Regions from separate parts of the Homo sapiens genome. Here region 1 is linked to region 2. Evidence: fine-mapped expression QTL. A gene starts in region 2. The other region holds a variant in brackets. All regions are shown on one strand. Distances are from middle to middle. Region 1 overlaps MANBA (mannosidase beta). Region 2 holds the start of MANBA (mannosidase beta).

Region 1 (5,215 bases), 48 kb after region 2:
GTATGGTGGTTGGGGGGCACACACAGTTTTGCACTAACTTGTGGTCCCCCCAAATTCATATGTTGAAGTCCTAACCTCTGGTATCTCAGAATGTAATCATATTTGGAGAAGGTCTTTAAGGGGTGATTAAGATAAAATGAGGCAGTTAGTGTGGGCCCTATTCCAATACAACTAGTGTCCTTTTAAGAAGGGGACATTTGGACAATGGAGAGAGACACCAGGGATGCCTAGCACAGAAAAAGACCATGTGAGGACACAGTGCAAACAGAGGAGATCGGCTTCAGGAGGAACCAAACCTGCTGATAGCTTGATCTTGGACTTCACTGTGAGAAAATACATTTCCATTGTTTAAACCACTTAGTTTGTGATACTTTGTTATGGCTGCCATAGCAAACTTATATACACATATGTAACATTTTTAAAGAAAATGTTTTTCATAATGTTTAAATTTCACCATAATCAGAATATATCTTCTTTTTCTCCTTGAAATTGCAGGAGCAATGTTCCTTTAGTTGGGACTGGGGGCCTTCCTTTCCTACCCAGGGAATCTGGAAAGATGTTAGAATTGAAGCCTATAATATTTGTCACCTGAACTACTTCACATTTTCCCCAATATATGGTAAGCTGAAAGATGTGATTTTTTTTTCTTTTTGAGTCTTCTTGTTATAAAAATTGGGTTTATAATTGAAATACAGAGGTATGTTTTTCAGAGATTTAGAATTTTTAAAAACTTTGTGGTACAATCAATTTATAAAAGTAAAAAATAGGTACAAACTGATTTTACATGAAAATTGACAATATAAAGCAGATATGTAGGTAGGTATCTTTTAGCATATTTTACAGAAAAAGGAAAAAATAAAATGGAAGAGCAGCGCCAAGTTTTCCTGAGATAAGTATTCTTTCTTGAAAGAACTGGGCCTGCTGGCTGTGCTCCTTTTTGCTGCCTCTGTAGTCACTTTTAGTGTCAAATTCTTGCTTTGCTCACACCGTTAGACTGGCTTTCTGTCTCTGTACATTTTCTTCATAACCCAGAGCACTACTCTGAGGGCCCTGACACAAGGGCCCTGACACAACAGCCTTGTGAAGAGTTAAAAATAAACTGGAAGGTAAACAGGGCAAAAGAAAGATTTCTTTTCTTTTCTTTTTTTTTTTTTTTTTTTGAGATGGAGTTTCACTCTTGTTGCCCAGCCTGGAGTGCAGTGGCACAATCTTGGCTCACTGCAGCCTCTGCCTCCCGGGTTCAAGCGATTCTCCTGCCTCAGCCTCCTGAGTAGCTGTGATTACAGGCATGTGCCACCACGCCCAGCTAATTTTGTATTTTTAGTAGAGATGGGGTTTCTCCATATTGGCCAGTCTCGAACTCCTGACCTCAGGTGATCTGCCCGCCTCAGCCTCCCAAAGTGCTGGGATTACAGGCGTAAGCCACTGCGCCTGGCCAAAAGAAATATTTCTAAGGTGAAAAATAGTACTTTTTAAGTTGAAGCAACTATTCAATATCAAGGAGCATTGAAATAGAACCTCAGAAATCTCACAGATGTCAGTGGATAAGTTAAAAGCTGGTTAAATATTTGTTGCTTTCTTTGCTCAGCGCTGTGTTTATTTGATAAAAGAAATAGAGTAGGTACACTGATCCCTTCATGTGTGGGGAGGGGAGATACAAACAATTACCAAACAAAACAAATAACCTTCCAAGATAAGAGCCAGAAAATCAAAGATCAGTGAGGATTTGAGAAGTTAGGGAAATGAAGGATGAAGATGGAGGCAAGTGAGATCTTAAATGAGAGCGTGCAATGCTCAGTGTAATCACACGGAGGCCTAACTAGATGAAATCAGTAAGAAAGAATGTGGTGTGTCAGTTCAAGAGTTCTGTTATCTTGAGAGCCCTGGTGACCTTAGCTTGCTATTCAATTGAGCCAAATCTGTATTTTCTGAAGGCAGAAGATGAAAGCAAATGATAGATGCTTAGATTTGAGGAGGTTATTTGGTGCTGTTGGTATTTTTAAACTTTAAAAAGGCATTAAAAGATCTAATTTAAATTGCACATGTAAATGTGGCTGTGCTTATAATTCTCTAGTTTAGTGCTTCCCAAACTATTCTTCTGAGGTGTAATCCAACTAAAGATTTTCGCTACTAAAATCAAATAATGGTTTAATCTCCCTTCATCCCATGCTACCACCCATACGTTTTCTCAGGTATAAATAACAGAATCTGGTGTGAGAAGTGGTCTGAGCTGAGCGCAGTGGCTCATGCCTGTAATTCCAGCACTTTGGGAGGCCAAAGTGGGTGGATTCCCTGAGCCTAAGAGTTAGAGACCGACCTAGACAACATGGCAAAATCCTATCTCTGACAAAAAATACAAAAAATACAAAAATTAGCCAGGCCTGGTGGCGTTCACCTGCAGTCCCAGCTACTCGAGAGGCTGAGGTGGCAGGATCGCTTGAGCTCAGGAGGTAGAGCTGCTGTGAGTTGTGATTGTACCACTGCACTCCAGCCTGGGTGATGGAGCGAGATGCTGTT[T/A]AAAAAAAAAAAAAAGTGGTCCGATTTAGCAAAAAGTTATTTATTTATTTTGAAGCTTAATCAGTATTTTGGGTGGTCTGCAAAATGCATTATAAGCTCTGGGTACCCTGATGCCTGAAAAAAATTTGAATAATACTGCTCTGGTTTAATTTACAATTTGAATATGAAACTAAACATTTCTTCCTGAGTTATTAGAGTTCACTTTATTAGTCACTAGTGACTGAGTGAATTTTATATGAATTAATTTAAATGATGCTTAAAATTCAATTTAGATTCAGTGTAAACAGTTCCTCCTCTCAACTACATTGGTGAAGGTTAAATACATTTTTTAAATTGACACGTAATATTTGTACATATTTATGGGGTATGTGTGGTATTTTGTTACATGCATAGAATGTGTAATGATCAAGTCAAGGTAATTCGGGTATCTATCACCTCTAGTATTTATCATTTCTCTATGTTGGGAATATTTCAAGTCCTCTCTTCTAGCTATTTTGAAATATACCATACATGTTGTTAAGTATAGTCACACTATTATGCTGTCAAACATTAGAACTTATTCCTTCTATTTAAATGCATGCTTGTACCCATTCATCAGCCTTTCTTCATTCCTCTCTGCCACTCATATACCCCTCCTAGCCTCTCGTCTCTATTATTTCACTCTCTACCTCCATGAGATCAACATTTTTACCTCTGACATGTGAGTGGCAAGATGCAAAATTTGTCTTTCTCTGTCTAATTTCACTTAACATAATGACCTCCAGTTCCATCCATGTTGCTGTGGAAGACATGATTTTATTCTTTTTTAGCCATTCATCTGTTGATGGACACTTAGGTTGATTCTATATCTTTGCTATTGTGAATAGTGCTGCAGTAAACATGGGGTGCAAGTATCTTTTTGTTATACTGATTTCTTTTTCTGTGGATAGTTACCTATTAGTGGGATTCTTGGATTGTATGGTAATGACTCTACTATTAGTTTCTTGAGAAATATAGTATTTCCATTGTGGCTGTACTCACTCATATTCCCACAACCGTGTATAAATGTTTCCTCTTCTCTGCATCCTCTCCAGCATCTATTATTTTTTGTCTTTTCAGTAATAGTCATTCTAACTGGAGTAAGATAGTATTTGTGGTTTTGATTTACAGTTCCCTGATGATTAGTGATGTTGACCATTTGTGCATATACCTGTTGGCCATTTGTATGTCTTCTTTAGAGAAATGTCTATTCATGTCCTTTGCCCACTTTTAAATGGGGTTATTTGCTTTTTTACTGTTCAGTTGAGTTCCTTGTGTATTCCAGATATTAGTACCTTGTCAAATGAATAGTCTGCAAATATTTTCTCCCATTCAACAAGTTGTCTCTACATTCTGTTGAATGCTTCCTTTGCTGTGAAGAAGCTTTTTAGTTTAATATAGTACTATTTGTCTATGTTTATGTTTGTTATCTTTGCTTTTGAGGTCTTAGCTATAAAAATCTTTGTCTAGATCGATGTCTTGAAATGCTTCTCGTATGTTTTCTTCTAGTAGTTTTATCGTTTCAGGTCTTATGTTTAAGTCTTTAATCCATCTTGAGTTTATTTTTATTTATGGTGAGAGATAAGAGTCCAGTTTCATTTTTCTGCTTATGGATATCCAATTTTCCCCGCACCATTTATTGAAGAGGATTGAAGAGGGTATTCTTTCTCCAATGCATGTTCTCTGACCAAGATGCCTTTGTGAAAAATCAGTTAGTTATTAATAAGTTGGTTTATTTCTGGGGTTTACACTCTGTTCCTTTGGTTTATGTGTCTGTTTTCAGGTAGTGTGATGCCTTCTTTTGACTCAGGATTGCTTTGGTTGTTTGAGCTCTTTTTTGGTTCCATATGAACTGTAGGATTTTTTTTCTATTTCTGTACAAAGTGACTTTGGTATTTTGATAGTGATTGCATTGACTCTGTAGATTGCTTTGGGTAGTATGGTGGTCATTTTAATGATATTAATTCTTCCAACCCATGAGCATGGGATGTTTTTCGATTTGTTTGTGTGACCTCTTCAATTTATTTCATCAGACGTTTATAGTTTTCCTTGTAGAGGTCTTTCACCTTTTTGGTTACATTTATTCCTAGGTATTTTATTTTTTGTAGCTATTGTAAATGGGATTGCCTTCTTGATTTCTTTCTCAGCTAGTTCATCATTGATGTGTAGAAACACTACTAATTTTTGTATGTTGACTTTGTGTCCTACAAATTTGCTGAATTTATTTATCAGATCTAAGAATTTTTTTATGAATCTTCCAAGTTTTTGCAGATGTAAGAGCATGTCATCTGCAAAGAGGAATAATTTTACTTCCTCTTTTCCAATTTGGTACCTTTTATGTTTTTCTCTTGCTTTATTGCCCTGGATAGGACTTCCAGCATTTTATTGGATAGGAGTGGTGAACGTGGGCATCTTTTTCCCATTCTAGTTCTTAGAGGAAAGACTTTCAGCTCCTCCTCATTTGGTGTGATGTTAGCTCTGGGTTTTTATATATGGCTTTTATTATGTTGAGGTATGCTCCTTCTATGACTAATTTGTTGATAGTTTTTATCATGAAGGGATATTGAATTTTATTAAATGCTTTTTCTGCATCTGTTGAGATGATCATCTGTTTTCTGTCTTTCATTCTGTTGATGTGATGTATCACGTTTATTGATTTGTACAAATGTAAGATCCTTGC
Region 2 (5,215 bases):
AGTTTTATGTTATCTCTAAATAAGGTTTATTTACCAGAAAATCATGGACAAAAATTATCCTATAACAAAATGAAAACATCATGTCATCTGTGCCAATTGCAATTTTAGGAAGAGTACTTATTAGGGCTTTGATTATTCTTTGATGTTCTCTGTTGTCAAAGTGAAGTAACCTAAATGATGTTATGCTTGCATCCTGGAATGAAAGGAGGAATGAGAATCTTCTATTATTGTTTTTCTAAAAATTATATTTCTTAATAAACAGAATATATCCATATGTATCATCAAGGATGAATTTTCCTCTGATTTGGCTTAATGAAATCTCTGGGAATTATGAAAAAATTCCTTTGCCGCTCTTGTTGCCATAAACCTTGTGTTATCAGTGTTGCACAGACCATGGCTAGCCATTTAATGCCGTGAATTATGGCATATAATTTGAATTGAGAGCTTTGTTTCTATCAAAGGTAAAAATGCTTCTGGAGTGAGTGAGGAAGGCTTTGAAGCAGTGAGAGCGTTTCCCCTATAGCATCATTGGGCTCTGACAGTAGGACCTTGAAGAGGAGGGTTCTAATCCTGTCTGCCACTATGTGACAGGCAAGTCACCTGATCTTTTTTTTTTTTTTTTTTTTAGAGTCTTTCTCTATAGCCCAGGCTGGAGTGCAGTAGTGCCATCTCGGCTTACTGCAACCTCTGCTTCCTGGGTTCAAGCGGTTCTCCTGCCTCAGTTTCCCGAGCACCTGCGACTACAGGCACGTGCCACCACGCGCCCAGCTAATTTTTGTATTTTTAATAGAGACAGGGTTTCACCATGTTGGCCAGGCTGGCCTCGAACTCCTGACCTCAAGTGATCCACCCGCCTCGGCCTCCCAGAAGTGCTGGGATTACAGACGTGAGCCACCGCGCCTGGCCCCGATCTCTTTGAACTCAGTTCCCTCATCTGTAAAGCCAGCGGCTTGGGTTGGATAATCCATACTGTCCTTTAAGCCAAGATATTCAGGGCTTGTAAATAATGCTGACTTTGCAAAGTAAGATATTGCCCGGTGTCTGCAGAATCAGGCAATTCCAAGGCCATTGTAAGGCGAAACAAAGCTCAGATTTGATGAGAGAAAATTTCTTTTCAAGGACTTCTTCCGAAGCATAAATATACGGCAGATAGCGTCAACACAGGAGAAAGGCAGTCTATTTTATGCAATGTAAAATTCCGTCTTAACTTCTAGGATTACTGTTACATCCTATTGCAAAAATGGGACTCAGGTAGACCATTTGACTACAAGACCCGAAATAAGTCAGTGGTATTTCTTGGGTACTCTGGCATTGTTAGGGACGATCACATATGTTTACTCATTTTATACTTATAACACCTTGAAAACTTCAAGAAACGGAGATGGAGATTTTGCGGCTTGCCCAGGTCCCACAGCTAGTGAGTGCAGAGGATTTTAAACTCAGCTGCGCGCCTAGTGCAGGTTCCAGAACCTCAGAAACCTCCGTGGGGCTTTATGAAACATAAGGACGCAGGCCGCTAGTAACAATAGCTAACGTGAATGCCTTCTCTGGGCCAGGCTCCATGCTGCATGCTATAGTCGCATTTTCTTGGTTAGCCCTCAGAACAACCTTCTGATGGAGATACTGCTAGTACTTGTTTACTCTTTGAAGGGCGGGGTAGGCTCTGAGACCCGCGAGTTGAGCTGCAGCGGGGTGAGTGTTACGCTACCAGGTAGACGAGGGTCTGTGTAAATTTGGCGGAAGGGAAGTGGTGGGTTGTCTCCCAGTTTGGGTTCTCTGAAGGAGTGAGGGGACTCTCCAGCTATGGTCTCCACGTACAGTCGGTCTCTGATCTCCCGAGGCTTTGTGCCACTGCGCGCCCAGGGATCTTTCTGTCCCAATTACCGTGCAAGATTCTTGCCTCCAGTTGTATGTACTGAGGCGGCGGGAAGAAGCGCCGAGGGAAGGCTCAGACCGCAATGCCCCCCAGCCTGTAGCTATTCTCGGGGGCTGCAGCTCCCGCACCCGCGACGCCCGGCTTTCAGCGGGTGCAGGCGCAGCCTCCTCGTTCCCCTCCCGCCCGCGGCTGCGCCCGGAGAGCGCTCAGCTGACCTAGGGGCGGGGCCGGGGCGGGGACCTAAAGCCTCGGCTACTTCCGAGGGGGTGAGTGGCTTCACCGCCGGTCCCTTGCAGCGCTGCCTTTCGATCTCTCCACATCTCGGTGGCGCGGGATCTCAAGATGCGCCTCCACCTGCTCCTGCTGCTCGCGCTGTGCGGTGCAGGCACCACCGCCGCGGAGCTCAGTTACAGCTTGCGTGGCAACTGGAGCATCTGCAATGGGAACGGCTCGCTGGAGCTGCCCGGGGCGGTCCCTGGCTGCGTGCACAGCGCCTTGTTCCAGCAGGGCCTGATCCAGGTATGGCGTGCGGCCGACCCGCGGCGAGCCTGCGCCCGCCTTCTTCTGGTGCTGAGAGGGGCCCAGGAACCGCCTGGCAGCCCCCAGCTCTGGGCCATTCTCGTCGGTTTGGTAGTAACTTCCCCTTTGCATCTTGTGATCTGCGGGGGGAAATGCCCAAGCTATGGGGTACGGGCTTGACGGAGACTGAGCGACCGACCCATGTTGGGACATCAGTAACTCTGGAAAGGGGAAGTTTAGATAGGGGAACAGTGTTGCTACTAGCAGTTTACTTACTGCAGTCGTTCTCTACTGAAGCGTGTATACAAAGGGCATGCCGTCACTGACAAGCATAAGGTCGGGAATTACTGTCTCTACTGTCTGCACGCCACAGGGGACAACAGCGTTTTGTTAAGTAAGGGTTAACTCTATTGAGTAATGTCTCGGTTTTTTATTTTCGCTGTTAAGCGTCAGGGAGTCAGATTTGGGATTGACGCAGCACAGACGTTGTGGAGAATGACCTACAAGAGTAAAGTTGGGTTTGTCAGTGCTAGTGTGGCTAACAACGGGTAAATAATTTTTAAGGCTAACTTGGTGATGAAGAAAGGTGCTATTTCCTCTCAGGGCGTGTGTGTGTGTGTGTGTGTGTATCCCAATGGAGTCTCCAATTTACAGACTACTTGTGGGGAACGTTTTCGTGTTTGGCTGCCTGTGCGCATAGGTTTGCAAACTGACTTCCATCCTCCAACTGCTTTTGCTGTTCCCTCTTGCACAGCGTTCCCACGTGTTGTCTTTACTTGGGGCAAAATGTACTTGTAATTGATCTACTTGTGGGATGCATACATTGTCCAATCCTCATAACAACTCTGTATAGTAAGTGTTCATATCTGAATTTTATGGATAATATGGAATTATGGAACACAGAGAAATTAGGAAGGTGACAGCAACTAAATGGAAAGAAATGGAATTCTAACCCAGGTGGTCTCAACTCCATAGCCTGGTCTCTATACTATGTGGTATGCTTAGTTTGGTGTTTTAAAAAATCATGTGTTTTTGAAGCACTGTGGCTGACTTTCAGGAGCACCATTCTAAGTTTATTTGCATGACAAGGTGGTCATCTAGGGTTGTGCCAAATTTCTGACCTGGTACTTAGTAGTTTTTTTTTTTTTTTTCCTGAGATGTGTATCAGAAAGGAGGTGAATGTTGTAAATGACATTGACCATTGTCCGATGTATTTTTAGAGTAGATCATTCCCAAACTTTAGTACTTTATTTTAAGTTGACAAACTACTTGTGATAGAGAACACAGCTGACCACAGTATACTCTGAGTTTTCACTTATATCTGCTTTGAGAATGCCTGTGTTTATTTTGTAGGGTTCCTCCTTGCCTGATTTTACTGAAATAATTAAGCCAATGGGTGCTGGTACGTGAGAGCTTTGGGAGGCCAAGGTAGGAGGATCCCTTGAGTCCAGGAGTTCAAGACCAGCATGGCCAACATAGAAAGAGTCTATGAGGCCGAGGTGGGAAAATTTCTTGAGGCCAAGAGTTCAAGACCAGCATGGCCAACATAGAGAGATTCTATCTCTAAAAAAAAAAAAAAAGAAAGAAAGAATTAAGCCAATGGGAAATAATGAGTGGCTTCAGTAAGTCAGATTATTGTGCCATATTACAGAGCTAAGAAGCTAAGAAACAACGTTTGGTTACAACAGATACTTAATGAAAATGAATTTGCTCATAGTATGAAATAACTTCCTCATAGGAACAATTTGAAGAGATTTCTTAACTCTCTTCATAAATTCTTAGCAAAACCTTGAGGTTTCAATCAGGTGGCCATGGGTCTCAAATGGCAGTGGAATGAGAAATGGGAAGGCTTTTGGGGCTTAGGAAACACAAGGCCTGTTGAAAATAATCATCAGGCTGGGCACAGTGGCTCATGCCTATAATCCCAGCACTTGGGAGGCAGAGGTAGGTGGAGTTTAGACCAGTCTGGGCAACTGGCGAGACCCTGTCTCTACAAAAAATTAAAAAATTAACTGGGCGTGGTGGCGTACACCTGTGGTCCTAGCTACGAGGGAGGCTGAGGTGGGAGGATCGTTTGAGCCCAGGAGGTTGAGGCTGCAGTGAGCCGTGATCTGTACTCCAACCTGGGCAACAGAGTGACACCCTCTCTCAAAAAAAAAAAAAAAAGAAAAAAAGTAAAGAAGCAATCATCAACATCAGATCAGTATCGTTATTCAGTAATGTGAGACTGTTGTCCGACCTGCTTTATTATAACATCCCTTTTTGGTGTTGACTTGAGGAAATATTCTACCGTTTATAGTAGACACTGGGCCAAATATTGTGTTTGTGTAAGAACTTGAAACATATCTTGGTGATATCATTCATTTATTTATCTATTCACCTAGTTAATTATCTCATATTTATTTTGTACCTCTAATGTGGCAGGCACTATTCTAAGTACTTGAAATCGAGTGGTAAAGAAAACAAAGTCCTTTCCCTAATGGACATTCTAATGGAGGAGATAGACATATATACCAAATTAATAAATAATGTAAGGCAGGTGGCACACTGAAGAAAAATTGAGCAGGTTAAAGGAAGAGACAGTGAAGGCTGGTTGGAAAGCATTGCTATTTTTTAAAAAGTGGTTCAAGATAGGTATTTTGATAAGGTGACTTCTAAACAAAAAGACCTGTTTGAAAAGGTCACTTTTAAGGAGAAGTGCATTTCCAGCAAAGAGGAAAAACACAGGAGTGGGGAGGATAGAGGCCCTGAGGCAGGCACGAGCTTGACAAGTTTCAGGAATAGTCAGCAGGCCAGTGTGGCTGGAGACCTGGGAACCAG

Evidence for each region. PIP is the estimated chance that this variant, and not a neighbour inherited with it, causes the effect.
Region 1: its variant is the best candidate, but not a certain one, in a credible set for the expression of MANBA in lung (TOPMed, PIP 0.55).

The regions. Positions count from the first base shown.
Region 1 is chr4:102,709,842-102,715,056 of GRCh38, reverse strand. MANBA (mannosidase beta) reads left to right here. Exons shown (of 17, transcript NM_005908.4): 5 at 496-619. Among named protein-coding and RNA genes, the nearest start is that of MANBA, 49 kb to the left of the region's middle. The variant T/A (reference allele first, on the strand shown) is at 2,518.
Region 2 is chr4:102,757,898-102,763,112 of GRCh38, reverse strand. It overlaps MANBA (mannosidase beta), which reads left to right and starts at 2,145. Exons shown (of 17, transcript NM_005908.4): 1 at 2,145-2,395. The coding sequence starts at 2,219. RefSeq lists a silencer at 1,981-2,110 and an enhancer at 2,201-2,550.